2 separate regions of the Homo sapiens genome follow, and region 2 is linked to region 1. The links come from fine-mapping of genetic effects on gene expression. Tissue or cell type: whole blood. Region 1 holds a variant in brackets; the other region holds the start of a gene. All regions are shown on one strand. Distances are between the middles of the regions.

Evidence for each region. PIP is the estimated chance that this variant, and not a neighbour inherited with it, causes the effect.
Region 2: LINC01237 starts here. The variant in region 1 is fine-mapped to the expression of LINC01237 in whole blood (TOPMed, PIP above 0.99).

Annotation. Positions count from the first base shown.
Region 1 is chr2:241,905,871-241,913,971 of GRCh38, forward strand. All of the region lies in intron 2 of LINC01237 (long intergenic non-protein coding RNA 1237), which reads left to right. Among named protein-coding and RNA genes, the nearest start is that of FAM240C, 9.5 kb to the left of the region's middle. The variant G/T (reference allele first, on the strand shown) is at 4,275.
Region 2 is chr2:241,878,317-241,886,417 of GRCh38, forward strand. LINC01237 (long intergenic non-protein coding RNA 1237) reads left to right here and starts at 3,047. Exons shown (of 4, transcript NR_110220.1): 1 at 3,047-3,162; 2 at 4,244-4,319. It overlaps LOC105373978 (a long non-coding RNA gene), which reads right to left and starts at 3,011. Exons shown (of 3, transcript XR_924077.3): 1 at 2,799-3,011; 2 at 2,553-2,701; 3 at 718-960. RefSeq lists an enhancer at 2,477-3,067.

The DNA of each region.
Region 1 (8,101 bases):
TCGGTGGTGAAATCCCCTGACACACTGAGTGGGGCTTCCAGGACGGGGGACGGAAGGAAAAGGATTAAGGGGTTAGGTAAGTGCAAATATGGCTTTGAAGGTTTAAAATCCTTCACTCATGTTGTGAGGGAAGAACAGGTACTAGACTAGAAGCCATGTCTGGTTGCCCTTGAGGGACCCCTCAGCCAATGTGAAGACGTGTCCAGGCAGCCCTGGGAGACATCCCTGTGGGGGGGCCAGTGCAGGAAACGGACCGCCGGGGGAAGCTCCTGTCATCCCAGGGTGGGCCAGGCTGGGACTACAGTCATGTGCACAGCATGGCTGAGATAATGAGCAAGACTCCAAGGTCCACCCAGGGGCCCGATGGCCTTTAGGGAGACCTAGCACTGTTGCAGGATCAGGAGGACCGGAGAGAGACCTTGGAGTGTACACAGGAGGATATCTTTATCATTGAGTGCACTCAGACCCAGCAGACTCAATGTCCAAAGACTGGGCCCAGAACAAAGACAGCGCCTGACTTTTACACACACTTCACAAAAGGGGGTGGGCTAGCTTGAAGCAAGCTTACAGTGGCGTGAAAGCAGGGATACAGAGGCAGGACAAACTCAGGATTGCACATGACTGTTGCCAAGCAACCCACATGTCCGTTATCTAGGTTAACCTGGGCACGGGCTTATCCCATAACCTTCACTATGTTGCCCAGGTGGCCGTAACTCAGGCCTGCTCAGAGGCTCATGACCTTCACTTTACTGCTTAGATAAAACAATGCTTGAAGTCAATAGTTACAGAGAACAGGAATTTATAAACTCATTCCATAAAACAAAGGAAAATTTGTTTTTCTTCTCCCTATATTGAGGGAGTGCTGGGAGAGTCTCCAGAGCACATTAGATAATATTATTATTAAGACTTTTCCTGGGTTTGGGCTGTGCTTGTTGCTGCCTCTAGGACAAGTTAGCCTAATACGGGAAAGCTTATTTCTCTTTCTTTTTAATTTTATTTTTCTTTAATTTCCCACCTCAACACGACCTGAACGTGGCTTAGTCTGCTGCTGGTGTTTGTGGAGGGCTGAATAGTGTCCTTAGGAAATATGTTCAAGCCCTAACCTGTGAACACAGACATTTTTGGAAATGGGTTATTGCAGATGTTATGCATTAGGATGACCTCATGATGGATTAGGGTGGGCCCTAAATCCAATGACCAGCATGCTTTTAAGAAGGGGAAATGTGTGCACAGACACACAGGGAAGGTACGGTGAAGCCGGAGGGAGAGAAGAAGGGACGCGTCTACACTCCAAGTGCAGAGAGAAAAGGTTCAGGGTTGAGGCTCCTGAAACAAGACGGATTCACCAGAGAAAAGCGAACAAATGTATTTTAGTTTTATGTGACTTGGAGCCTTCGTAAGGAAATGAAGACCCAGAGCCAGGTGGACCTGTGTGTTTGTGCTTTGGCTTGATGAAGAGGGGATGGCCGTGGGGAAACGTGGATGAGGACGGGAGGCTGTGATGTGATGGGTGAACTGGGCACCTCAGCACGGCCTGTGTGCCCGGGGGAGAGGGGATAGGTGAGCAGGGAAATGACTGTGTTGACTATACACAGCCACCACCTAAACCTCAGTGTTTGCTTTGTAATTGAGCTCACGCAAGCAAAGCTATCTCCAGCGGGGACTCTCTTCTAAAGAGCACGCACACTTTAATTTTTACCTGTCCTCGAACCAACCCTTTGTTCATTATAACAGTGAAAAAGATACCCCTGGGTGGAGATGTAAGATGCTAATGAGACACACCACCTACAAACAAGCATGTGTGCCGACGACCACCAGACTGTGCTTCCTGATAACACCTCTCCCACTTTCTTTTTTTTTTAAGGTGGGGTCTAGATCTATCCCCAGTCTGGAGTGCAGTGGTGAGATCTCAGCTCACCACAGCCTCTGCCTCCCAGGTTCAAGCGATTCTCCTGCCTCAGCCTCCTGAGTAGCTGGGATTATAGGCATGCGCCACCATGCCCAGCTAATTTTGTATTTTTTTTTAGTAGAGACGAGGTTTCTCCATGTTGGTCAGGCTGGTCTTGAACTCCCGACCTCAGATGATCCACTCGCCTTGGCCTCCCAAAGTGCTGAGATTACAGGCATGAGCCCCCATGCCCGGCTACCTCTCCCATCTTCTTATGGATCATCGGGTGAGACTCCCATAAAGGCAGCCTCCCTATGGCCGGTCTCTGCTGTCTCACCCTCATGACCCACCCTGAGTCCTTTCTCCCTTAGGGTGGCCTGTCTATTCTGCACCTCACTTTCAAAATACTCTTTTTTTTTTTTTTAAAGACAGAGTTTTGCTCTTGTTGCCCAGGCTGGAGTGCAGTGGTATGATCTTGGCTCCCTGCAACCTCTGCCTCCCGGATTTGAGTGATTCTCCCGCCTCAGCCTCCCAAGTAGCTGGGATTACAGGCGCTTGCTACCATGCTTGGCTAATTTTTCTATTTTTATTAGAGATGGGGTTTCACCATATTGGCCAGGCTGGTCTCAAACTCCTGACCTCAAGTAATCCGCCCACCTCGGCCTCCTAAAATGCTAGGATTACAGGCGTGAGCCCCTGCAAAATACTTTTCTTCTTTTGCAATAAGTTACTCTGTGCTGCACTTCTTTTGCAGTGTGTCTCTTGTTTAAATTCTTTTGAACTGAGAAGACGAGAACTGTCATCACGTCAGCTGTCAACACCAGTTCTCTGTGTCCTGTATCTTCAGAGAGAAGGGCGTGTCTTTTCCCCGGGTTTCGGGAGGGCGTCTCACATCAGGGTCTTGGGGACCTGCTGTAGGGGAGAAGGCTGAGGGGAGGTGAGAGAGACCTTCCTGCTTCTGCTGTTTTCACAGTGCCAAGGTGCCATACTTTGGGGTAGCGTGTCCCGAACCCCATCAAAAGCAACACAGAGGGTTGCTGGGGCATGGCCGGGAGCAGATTCCCTTTCACATCTCCGCAGGAACTGACCCTGCCGATGCCTGACCTCAGACTTCCGGTCCCCAGGCTGTCAGACAGATTTCTGTTTTGCTTAGTCGGGCAGACGCTAGGCTCTGTCCCCTACGGTGGCACCATTGGTGCCGCTCATCGGTTCTTTTCAGGCGGCACAAAGTCCTGCACACGTGTGGGCCAGGTCTCCAGGAGATCTAGGCAGAGTGAAATGCAGATTTTGGGGTCCCCTCTGGCTCTGTCCTTTCCAGGAACTCCTCTTTCCTCCCTGGCTGCCACAGTCACCCCGTTGCTCTCTGGGTCCTCATGCCGGAGGGACGGTGGTTTCCTACCCGAGGCTTTGCTCCCCTGCGTGGGCCAGCTGCTCTCGAGTGGAATGCCTTACAAAAGGAAATCTGCCTGGCGCCACGGCTTTCCTCCGAGTACGGACGCCTGTTCAGTCTCTTTCTGCTTCCGGCTGTGCCCGGTACCTTCTGGTGGTTGGTGCCTGTATCTGTCCAGGGGATGTAGGTGGTGTGTTGGACTGACATGAGCTGCTTTGCCATGACTGGAAATGGAGCCTCAGTGTTACTGGAAAAAGGGTCTCAATCAAGACCCCAAGAGAGGGCTTTGGATCTCTCGTGGGAAGAAATTCCAGGCGAGTTGCAGAGTGCAGTGAGAGAAGGAAGTTTATTGAAAACTACTTCATTGCAGATAGGGCACCCTCAGAAAGCAAGAGAAGCAACGCCCCAGCTTTAGGTTTTTCTTATATAGGGGTCTCGTCTGTGGAAAGACCAAGCCAAGCTGTGCCTACATGTAGGTGAGCAGAGAGCATGATATTTTCTTATTCTATGTAAGGAAAACTGTCCTTGACATTTTCGTGTGTGAGTCCATCAAAGCATAACTGGAATGATCTTAACAGCACACATTGCTGGGGTTCTGGACGTCTGGACTCTGTTGTTGGAGGAGTGTGTTTTTGCAGGCGTCACCAAGCTGCCTCTTTAGCTGTGAACATCTTAGGACCGGGGGTCATGACTGTGTCCGGCGAGTGGATTTTAAAATGGTGTGATTCTGGCTCTCCTGGGCTCCTGCCTTCCTAACACCAGGACCTTTCTTTTGATAAGAGGACGTTGCCCTTGCCCTCTCCGGGTCACTGTGAGGACGGGGGTGGACGGAGCTGAGTGCCCAGCAGAGACTTGTCAGAACACGTGGCCTGAAACTCAGCATATGGCCGCCAATTTTGAGCCAATTTTGACCCAAAGCACTTTTGCAAGGAATTGTGTCCTGGAACCTGGTGGCCTGGTTAGGGTTGGCCTGGCCCCTGGTTCTCCCTCTGTGAA[G/T]CGGGGATCGAGGGAGCTCAGGGGTTGTGTGTTCAGCACAGAAGCAGGGCCTTGCCTGCAGGAATGCCAGGCTTTATTGCTTTAATTATGATTGTCGATCTAGAAAATAGCACATACAGTGTCGTATCAGTTCTCTCAGGGGTCCCAGAAAAAATGGGTTCTGGGACCAGGTGAGAACCTATTTCTCTCTAACTCTATATTTGTCAAATGTATTTGATAACAGAATGCATCTCTATTTTTGTGAAAATCCAATTAATATCCTGAGACAGATGCCCTGAAAAATGTCTTTGTAAATAGTCTGAGTATTGACAGCATTCTAAATAATCTGGGTTTCATCCATGCAAAAATCAGACACCACCCACTCCAGACGGCCAGCACCTCCCGCCTCAAGGTGTCTCCCTTGACCCTGGTTTCTCCGTTGATTCCCTTTTTATCCAACTCATCATGTTTCTAGATGCTGCTTCACATGCAATTAGTTGTTATAAGGAAATAAATCACCTACTTTCTAGGGGAAGAAATACATACATTTCTGCAGACTCGGGGGATGTTAGGAACAATGGAAACGTCACAGAGCCGAGTGGTGTTGCCCGGATCGCTCTAGAGACTGATTTGGGGACTGCTTCCGAAGCACAGAAGCGTCTGTTTGCTCTGCCTCCTCGGCCTCCCAATCACCCCATCTTCACGTGGAAATGCACTTCCCAGGAGCGTGTTCGCTGTGACTGCTGCCTTCCCATGGCTATGCGTGACCCTGAGGTAGGGAAACGTTTCTTAAACAGGACAAAGACCCCCAAACCCAAAAACAAGATGGCAAAGGGAATGATGAACAGAACTGTATTAGAACTAAGATTAGAAAATCATCAAAAGTTCAAAGGGCATGAGAAGGGAGCATAGAGTGGGAGAAACGTCTGCAGAGACTCGGCTGCGAGCGACTCTGTCCGGGACCTGCAGGGAATGTGTGGAAACCAACCAGAGGCAGGTGGCAGCGCAGGCCGAGAGGGGCATGAGAGCTTTGAAGACACTTCACAGAAGAGGACAAACGTGGCAGGAGCTATGGGATGAAGTGCACACACACAAACCCAACACACACCCACACACCCACACACACCCACACACACACACCCCCCACACAAACCCAACACACACACACACACGACACACACACCCAACACCCACACACCCACACACACCCACACACAGACACCCACACACCCACACACACACACACACAAACCCAACAAGACAGAAACAAGCAACAACACAGCGATGCAAAACTAACAATGATCACGCAAATTATACGATTTCTGAGCGCTCTCAGTGTAAGCAGAAATGAATACCAGCTGTTAATGTGTTAATGCTAACTTTAGTCATTTAAAAAGAATTTGCAAGACAGAACCCCAAACCAGTTTCTTTCCTAGTGATGGGGCCACAGCTGAAGACCACTGATGCAGACGCAGACGAGCTCGCCTTCCTTGATGGAAGCCAGTGGAAACTCCCCCCCACAAAAAGGAATTTTTTTAAACAGCAAATAAATTCCAGACCCCCAAATGAAAAACCCTGGAAGATCAGGGATCCCTGGAGGAAAGGGCTCCCAGACTTCGGCAAATCGTCCTATCAGTTTGGGCTGTGAGGTGCCCAAGCCGGTGCCAAGCACGGATAGGTGAGCTGCTGCAGGCCGGGTCACCTTCACTCAGGATCTCTCCAGATGTCAGTCGAGAAAAATGACAAGTCTCAATCATCTGTGGAGGTTTATTTGCCAAAGTTCAGGACACATCCCTGGGATTCAGGTCTATGCCATTCTCCGGAGATGATTTTGAGGTTTTGAGGGCTCCAAATTTAAAAGGCAAAGGGCGAGATACTGGGAAGTACACAATTTTCATGTAAGAGGCGGGTAGGGAGAAACATTCATGCCTTTGTCTGGCTCAGTGAATCTGCATTTTTTACATAAGACGACATAGACAAGTGGCATAGAGGAAGAACAAGGGAATCTGTATTTTACGTAACACAGACAAACAGGGCAGGGGAGCAATCAGATATGCATTTGTGTCTGACGGGCAGGAAGGTGACGGCACCTGTAAAGATAAGCCTTCCGTTTACATGCATGGAGAAATTTTAACAGAAACACCTTCAGAGATCTTGCGGCGCTAGGAATTTCCATGAGGGCAACACCGGGGAGGCGGGTGGCTTTTCATCTTGCAGCTGTCTTATTTAGGAACCAAAAGTGCGAGGCAGGTTTTCACGAGCCAGTTTCCAGCTTGACTTTTCCCTCTGGCTTAATGAGTCTGGGGTCCCAGAATTTAATTTCCTTTCACATGACAGATGGGAGCATCGGGCCAGGGTGCTGCCCGTGGCCCCACGCTTCCCCGAGGGGCTGCTCCCATCGTAAGTCCTGGCAAGATGGTGGTCAGGTGGGGGTCTTTCACAGCGCCTCCCCCATCTTATAAAAGCCAAAGGATTCCAGGGTCTCAGGTGGGATTCTAATCCTTTATATGCTCATATGGCAAAACCCCTGGACCCTTTTTCAGAATAATGTTTTCATAGTTTACATAAAAATGCAATAACTATGAAATACTGTTATCAAAATTTTAAAGATCGGATGTAATGATATAATTTATTAATGCATAAAACAGAATCTGGTGATGGGTCTAAAACCCACCATAATTTTGAAGTTATGACTGTAAATGGTATTTTAAGATATCTTCAATAATTGCAAAAAGATTGGAAATGCCTGCGATTTCTTCTGGTAGAAAAGCCACAGGTTCGGTTAACTGAATTCATTTTGTTGCTTCTGGTCAGGATCGAATGACAGTTAAATTTGATTCATGATTACTGAAAAATGGGTGAACCCTGGGGTGTGTGGGCCCTGAGTCTGGAAGGTCTGGTCTGGCGCAAAGCACCTCTCACCACCTCTGCCCCCTGTGTGCTTCACATTTCAAACTTAACAACATATTTTCACATTCGTTATCTTATTTAATTTGCTGATGATAAATATATTAAGCATCCAACCCAAGAAACTAGTAAGAGAGTAAGAATATTCACCCAAGACAATTACATGGCAGGAAGAACGAAGATTAAAAATAAATGTACACAGTAGAAAATGTCAACAAAAATTAGACCTTGTTAACAAAATACTAGATTTAATCAATGAAAGCCACAGATGGTTTGTTGAAAATAAAAATAGAGAATAGAGAAACCTATTAATAATTTAAGTAATTTGGAAATGTATATTAGGGCAAATTTAAGATAAGAACATATACAAAAGGAAATATTATGTAAAACTCAGAGAAAAATCTAAACAAACATATTTTCTGAGAGAATATAAGTTTAAAAATTGACTTCAGAAGAAATAGAAAACACAAGTAGCTCGATAACTATAGTAGTGACGAAAGAGATTGGCTGAGCTAAACTAGTGTTATAAGCACCAGTCCTTGATGGTAACTCAGAAGTTTTGAAAAAGAGAAACAGAGCAGTGTGGAGTATGTGTGCGCAGGTTCACACATGTGTGAAAGTGTGTGGGATGTTTATCTGTGTGTCTGTGTGCACACGGTGTGTGAGTGTGTATGTGTGTGTGTGCTTGTTAAAGTAGGCAGATGGCCGGGAATCTGTATCCTGCCCTCACAAGGTGGGCTCCCACCTGCAGGCTCAGGGGAGGAGCCCCTTCCGGGCCCCCTGTTCCTGACTTCTGACCCCTGGCGCTGCCCCACGGTAAATGCCAGTGCTTTTAGGCCACTGGGTTTGTGGTTATTTGTTATGTCAGCAAAAAAAGAACTAATACAAAGAGCAGGTAAATTGGAATAGCCTCTTTACAGGGTAATTTGACTTCATCTATA
Region 2 (8,101 bases), 28 kb before region 1:
CATCATCAGCATTGTTACCATTGGTTTCATTAGTAATTGTATTTATTTAATTAATTGTTACATTCACTAGTAAAAATGGGAGCTAAGGCAATGCGTGCACTCACCGCTGTGAAGGCAAATGCGGTACTGTGAGTGCTGAATGCACCGCCATGGTCGCGGGAAAGCCCAGGCACAGACACTAGCTCAAAAGCCAAGGGTAGGCCTGGGGTTCACATGCCAAGCAGCAAGCTGAACTCTCACCCTGAGCCCACACCTGAGCCCTCATCTGAGGCTGCACCTGAGCCCACACCTGAGCTCTCATCTGAGGCTGCACCTGAGCCCACACCTGAGCCCTCATCTGAGGTTGCACCTGAGCCCTCCCCTGAGCTCTCGTCTGAGGCTGCACCTGAGCCCACACCTGAGCTCTCGTCTGAGGCTGCACCTGATCCCACACCTGAGCTCTCGTCTGAGGCTGCACCTGAGCCCACACCTGAGCTCTCATCTGAGGTTGCACCTGGGCCCACACTGGAACTTTAACCTGAGCTTACACCTGAGGCTGCACCTAAGCCCTCACCCGAGACTACACCTGAGGCTGCACCTGGGCCCACACCTGAATCCACACTGGAACTTTAACCTGAGCCTACATCTGAGCTCTTGCCTGAGTCTCCTATATGGTTGGAGTGGCCAGGTTGGGCCTAATTAAATATGAGGTAGCAGTAACGACTTTAGGCAACTGAGTTATTAGTAGAGATATTTAATATCAAAGTCAAAGAAGATGAAGGGCAGACACATTTTTAATGTAATTGCTATTAGTTCAGCCAAAGTTGAGGGGACTCAAAGTGTGAATACTTTTCTGACTTAAGGTACATTTCCTAGTGATGGGGGTCAGCTCATCCAGGGTCACATGTGGTTCCTGCTGAAACCAAGTCTGGGGTTCCCTGGGAGGGTCTGGCGAGAACTCTGACAGCAGCTCCCATCACCCTGTGGTGGATAAAGCGAATGCCTCTCTAAGTGTCTGGGGGTGGGGTAGGGTCTGTGCTGATTTATGTAGCTACCTGTTGCAGGGTTGGGTTAGGATCAGGTTGGTTACCCTGGACCCTGGGTATTCAGGTGGACAGGCGGGCCTTGGCCTTGGACAATGGCTAGCTAGGGTGGGCTAGAGCTGCTTCACCCGCAGCTTTGGCGAGGGGAGCGGGAGGCCAGGGAAGTCCCCAGGAGGAGTGGCCACGCTGTGATCCGGGCCCCGGGCTGGCTGGTAGGTGGAGGGTCACACCACCTGGGCCTCAGTGAGGTCCTAGCTGGAGCAGAGGTTCGGGGATCTCCTTCCCTTTCCTTCTGGGGCCTGGGACTTTGTACCTCTGTACAGGAGAGGCAGCAGAGGGCTGGGGTCCTGGCGATGCCTCCACTCTGCCTCCCAGCCTTTGGGGAATGTCTCCACCTGTTATGGCAAGTGTCCCTGTTTGCCTGGGACTTTGGGGGCTAAATTGGAGGCCTTTCTCTTTTTCCCCAAGTTCTCCAGCACACTTAGAAGCATCCGCCCACCCAGCTACACCCCTAAATTTTTCCCTTGATGCCCAGGGCCAGGCATCCTATGGCCATTTGATTACAGATGTCTGCAGGTGGCAATCTGAGTGCCTGTATGCTACTCCTGTGGGCAGCTAGCACCCTGGTACCCCTGGGAACAGAGCGTGAATGCCTTTAAAGCTAGTTGGAGCAGAGAACCAATTCCAGACACCCAGAGACATTTAGATAACTCATTACTAGGGTCCTGGCCCTGGGATCACTCCCAGGACTAGTTCTGTGTCTGTCCAGGTGTGATCCAGGAGTGCAGTGACGGATGTGGATGTGGGATTGGCACAGGACTTCCGCCAGCAGAAGAAAGGAAGGGAGGGGAGGGGAAGAGAGGGCAGGGGAGCAGAGCGGAGGAGAGAGGGGAGCAGTCTTTCCAGCTGGGGCTGGCCTAGGCTGCTGGGTCATTTGGGAAGAAAAGGTGATTTGGACTCAGGGAGACTGAGGGTGCCCTCGGGCCAGCATCTGAGGAGAGTGACAGGGGTTTCCTGGCTCCACAGCCCCAGGTGGCCTTGGTGGGTGCAGGCAGAAAATGACCTTTTCAAGTCCAGTTCCAACCCAGAGGGGGTTCCTAGACCCAGCGCCAATCAAGGGGCACCAGGGAGGCAGCAGAGGTTCCCGCAAATCCAGAGCAGAGTGGCTGCCAGACACCCCACATCCTCTTCGCAGCAGACTGAAGGCCACCCCACACTTGGAGGAGCCCGGGTGAAGCATCTGGGGAAGACCCTCAGCCCTGGGAGAGTCCCTCCAGGGGTGAGCAGGTGGGCTGCCCCTCAGGGTGCGGCTCATTTCGATGTAAGTTTTATAAAATAAGAAAAGGCGCCCTATAGCACCCCTTTGGGAGCCTCGTGTCACCTCCAAACATATACCTCGCTTCCAGGTCAGAAGTAGTGAAATGACCATTGCCAATGCAAATGGAACTGCCTTAGGACACATGGGGGAGGTTAGGGCCTGCTGTGGGGCCTTATGGTGGGCCCCGAGGGGCCCCGCACACCTGTGCTCACCTCCCAGGTCATCGCTGGGCCGCCTCTGTCCCCTGGGAGGCTCTGCCTCGGGGAGCCCTCTTCCCAAGCTCCCAGCAATGACTTCCAGGCCTCCCTCAGCATCAAGAGGAGCCACGTCTTCTTCTTGTGACCCAGCAGTATAATTCACCCTAAATAATGGCAGAATGGGTTGTGTGTAGTCTTTAAAAGTCAAAACAATTTTGCACACAACAGGAGTCATTCAGCAGTGGCTAACACTCTCCTGACCTGTGTCGGCGCTGGGCTCCAAGGTGTACCTCCGCACGCATGGGGTTAACTACGCCCCCATGACCATTCCCTGCAGGAGGGGCGGGACAGAGGACTGCGTTATGTTTCTCCTAAAAGAAAATCATGAAAGTCACACACTCCAGGTGCCACACTTATTATGGAGGGAGGGAAAGCAGATGAGCGGGCGGGAAAACTAGCGGGCTTGCCACGCCCAGGCAGCGCTGCTCGGGTTTCCGCTTCCTCCGCCCCTTCCTTTTTCTCTGTGCATCCTCAGTGACGCGGGGCACAGCTCTGCCCGGGGGCCTACCAGAGCCCACCTGGACCCCACACTGGGTCAGCCCTGGTGCGGAGGAGGCCGCTGTAGGTGGGCACGGGGCAGCACGCGTTAAGGGGCTGGACGGGGGGTGGCCATGCGTGTGAGGGCGCTGAGCAGGGGCGTGCCCATACGTGTGAGGGGGCTGGGTAGGGGCGTGGCCCAGCGTGTGTGTGTGTGTGTGTGTGTGTGTGTGTGTGTGTGTGTGTGTGTGGCTGGACAGGGGTGTGGCCACGCGCGAGGGGGCCGTGCAGGGGGCGTGGCCACGAGCGAGGAGACTAAGGGGCGTGGTCACGCGTGTGAGGGGCTGGGCTAGAGGAGTGGCCCTGTGTGCGGGGGCTGGACGGGGGCGTGGTCATGTGCGAGGAGGCTGAACAGGGGGCGTGACCACGTGTGGAAGGGGGCTGATCGGAGGTGTGGCCACATGTAAGGGGGCTGGGCAGGGGGTGTGGCCACGTGTGAGGGGGGGCTGGGCCGGGGCGTGGCCACACGTGTGCTGGCTCTGCTGTGGGCTTCCTTCCCTTCCTGTGCAGGTGGTGGTGCCCTCTGCGCCTTCACTGGGGCCCAGCCAAGTAACTGAATCCAGCCAGGAGCAAGGGCAGACGCTGGCACAGGTCCTGCCACTGTCCCCAACCTGGGTTTCAACACAGCTGAGGCCTGGCATAGTCTTTCTGGGCGCCTCTGGCTGGCTCGGTCTGAAAGGTGGGACAGATGCAACTGGGGCCTCCCCGGGTGCAGCGTGGGTGGCTCCTGGCTGGGGAAGTGAGAAGCCCTCCGTGCGGTGTCTCTGAAGCAGCCCCAGGCCAAGGCTGTGGCGTGCTTGGTGGTGCTGTAGGCCCAAGATGTTTATGGGTCGAGGGTCCCCGGGGCCGGGATTCTGATCCCTGGTGAGAGGTGGCTGGGAGGAAGTCCAGACGTGTCCTGAGTGGCCATTCCTCACACTGAGGTGACACCGCCTCTCCAAACACGTGACGTGGCTGGAAGCAGATGCTGCTGTCCGGTTCTCCCTCCTCTCCGTCCCTGGCTGGGACATGTGGATCTCACCCGCAGCCACTTTCTTCTGGCCTCTGTCCCCCTGCCTGGGACACGTGGACCTCACCCCCAGTCTCCTTCTCTCCTCTGCCCCCCGCAGGCGCGGCCAGGTCACAGTCGGCACCAGAAGTTTGGCAGATCTCAGTGAGGCGTTAGTTTGCATTTCCTTGTGACGGGTGAGTTGAACACCCTTTCATGAGTGTATTGATCACTGTGTACCTTCTTTGTTGAAATGTCGTCAGTATTTAAAGTCACAAATCTTCCTCTAAGACTATGCTACAATTTTTGTGTAATATTTTGATGGATATTTGAAATAAGTGCTAATTTTCTTTGGATTTCTTCTTTGACCCATGCTTTATTTAGAAGAATCTCTTTATGTGTGTATTTATTTTTTAAACCCTCTATTCTGAGAAGCATATTTAGAAGAGTATTGCCCACTTTCCAAATATGTGGAGAGTCTAAAAGGAATCTTGCTATTACTGATTTAATTCCATTTTGATCAAGGAACAAACTGCAGGATCTCACTTTTTAAAATTACAGAGACTTATTCTTACTGTTTAACATAAGCCCTATCTTTGTAAATGCTCCGTATACACTCAAAAATTACTTGTGTTCTGCAGCTGTGGGGTGGGATGCTCGCCAAGAGTTAATGAGGTGCAGCTGGTTGACAGTGCTCTTTAAACCGGCGAATCCTTCCTGTCCCACCCGCTGTGCTTGCAGTCCCGAGAGAGCTGTTACATCTCCAACTAGGACAGTGAATTTCTCTATTCTTTCAGTTCCGTCCGTTTTTACTTCGTGTTTTTTGAAACTGTTATTATCTTTTTAGGCATTTAGGATTTTTCTGTGATCCTGACAGTGGCTGACCATGGTGTCATCATGGAATGTCCCTCTTTATCTTCAGGGGTGCTACCTGGTCTAATGTGAGTGTTCCAGGGCTATTTTCTTATGCACAGAATTGGCACTGTGTATCTTTTCCTTTTTCTATTCTTTTTTCTTTTTTTTTTCTTTTTCAGACAGAGTCTTGCTCCATTGCCCAAGCTGGAGTGCAGTGGCGCGATCTTGGCTCGCTGCAAGCTCCACCTCTCGGGTTCACGCCATTCTCCTGCCTTAGCCTCCCGAGTAGCTGGGACCACAGGCACCCGCCACCACGCCTGGCTAATTTTTTTGTATTTTTTTTAGTAGAGACGGGGTTTCACCGTGTTAGCCAGGATGGTCTTTATATCCTGACGTTGTGATCCTGCCCACCTTGGCCTCCCAAAGTGCTGGGATTACAGGCATGAGCCACCGTGCCTGGCCACTTTTTTCCTTTTTTTTTTTTTTTTTGAGACAGGGTCTCACTCTGTTGCCCGGGCTGGAGTGCAGTGGTGCCATCTTGGCTCACCACAGCCTCGACCTCCTGGGCTCAAGTGATCCTTCCACCTCAGCCTCCAGAGTAGCTGAGACCACAGGTGTGCACCACCACACCAGGCTAATTTTTTTTTTGTATTTTTCAAACTCCTTTTTTTTTTTTTTGAGATGGAGTTTCACTCTTGTTGCCCAGGCTGGAGTGCAGTGGCGCGATCTTGGCTCGCTGCAACCTCTGCCTCCTGGGTTCAGGCAATTCTCCTGCCTCAGCCTCTCCAGTAGCTGGGATTACAGGCACAAACCACCATGCCTGGCTAATTTTTTTCGTATTTTTAGTAGAGACAGGGTTTCACCGTGTTGGCCAGGCTGGTCTGGAACTCTTGACCTCAGGTGATCTGCCTGCCTCAGCCTCCCAAAGTGCTTGGATTACAGGTCAAACTCTAAGACTCAAGTGATCCTCACTCTTGTGCCTACCACAATGCTGGGACCACTCCTGGACCACTGTGGATCTTTTTCTATCCTTTAGACACCCAACCTGTCTTTGTATCTTACGTGGGTGTCTGTAGATGGAGTTGGGTCTTGGTGACAATCCCTGCTTTGCACATGGAGTTTCTCCATTTGCAATTCCAGTAATGATTGATGAGGTTGCTGTAGATCCCCCATCTTGCTACTTGTTTTCTAAGTGTCTTATCTTGTCATTTGTTTTTTATTTGTCATTTTTTTGTTCCTTTGTTCCTCCATTCCTGCCTTTTTTGGGTTAATTGAAATTTTTTAGTACTTCGTTTTACACCTCTGTTGGTCTTTTAGCTGTGCCTCTTGGTATTACCATTTTTAGTAGTTACCCTAAAGACAACAAAATGAATCCTTAATTTATCAGCCTATTCACCTCACACAAAATGTGGGAAACTTGTAACGGTGTAATTCCTCTAACCCTGTTCTTCCTGTTACAGTTGCCATATGTTTAACCTCTACCTACATTACAAACTCCGTAACACAATGCTACTTTTGCTTTAGACAATCTTTTGAATAAATTAAAGTTAACTTTTTAAGAAATTAACTGTCAGTTGGGTGTGGTGGCTCATGTTTGTGATGCCCAAATTTTAGGAGGCAGAGGCAGGAGGATTGCTTGAACTTAGGAGTTCGAGACTGCTTTCGGAAACACAGTGATACCTCGTCTATTAAAAAGAAAGCAAACTAGCCGAGCATGGTGGTGTGCACCTGTAGTTTCAGCTGCTCGGGAGGCTGAGGCAGGGGGATCCCTGGAGCCCAGGAGGTTGAGGCCGCTGTGAGCCATGGTCACTTTCCTCCCCATCTCCCCTGTCCGGCATCCACACAGCTCCTTCTCTGTTGTCCCAGGCCAACCCCAGCCCTGGTGCTATGCCCTCCTCTCACTGCGCCCTTGTTTCCCCGAGCTCTGCCTCCTATGGTGGCAGAGTGGGAGGGGGAGGGTGGGAAGCATGGCTCACAGTTGGCTCCATCACAGTGGCCCTGTATTTGTCCAGTTTCACAGCCATTTGCTGGAGGAACGCAGGTCCAGCACTGGCTACCCTGTCACGGCAGGGGTGACCTCTTACCAGCCTAGCAGCCCAGAGGCGCCCCAGGTGGGGAGGTGGCAGGTGGACACCGGGTCCCGTGTGTTGTGGCAGTGAAGCCTGCAGCCCACCAGAGCTCCAACAGCAGAGAAACAGGCTGTGAGTGTAAGCGTGGAATTGCTGTGAGCCATGGCGCCAGCAGCATGTGCTGCAGAGACAGCTAATCAATTAGCCCCTCCGTGCTGGGTGCTGTGTGTGCACCATTAAAGAGCTCACGGGGAGAGAAATGCAGACTCCTCTGGGGGCCCCAGGGTGGATTGCACCACTCAGCATGTTCTATTGAGTGCCTTTCCCTGCAGTGCGTGCTTTCTGAGGCTGTAATTTTGAGTGTGTCTTTCAAGGCTGCAGCCCTTAAGCAGTACAGCCTGGGTGTTCAGCTGGATAATCCTGTAAGTGAAGTTTGAGTGGTTTAACTGCCTACAGCAGGTGGGAGCTCGGGTGGTGGGGAGCATCTGGGGTTTCGAGGAGTCTGAGCCTCTGTGCAGGGCTGCAGGCTGTGGACGGGTTACGCGGGTGCTGGTCTTTAACGAGAGGACCTTCAGAGAGATGCAACAAAACCCCATGTGAGGCAGAAATGAAGCCTCCGAGTTGTATTGGAAGAGCTGCTGTCCGTGCAGCCACCACCCCCCTAAATACTCTGTGAGGGTCCTGGCTCCAGTCCATCTGTCTATCATCTTGGGAGCAGCCCATGCCAGCCACGTTGTCCTCCAGGCTTCTCTGCACAGACCTGGCTGCTGCGGGGTGCAGGGCATGTTGTTTGCACGTGTGCACTCCACCTCTCTTTCACATGCGCGTTCTCTGTAACACTCAGGACAACCCCGTGAACTAGAAGTCAGGTCCCTTGTTGAACTGGAGTTGGCCTGAGAAAGATCTTGGAGGATTAAGGCAGAGCTTTGCTCTGGGTCTGCCTCCAGGAAGGTGCCTGAGTCTCCACAGGGGCTGTGCCACAGAAGCCCCCCACAGCTTTTGGAACCCCAGAGCCCTTCACTGCACATTCGCCCTGTAGCCTCAGTCTCCAGGGA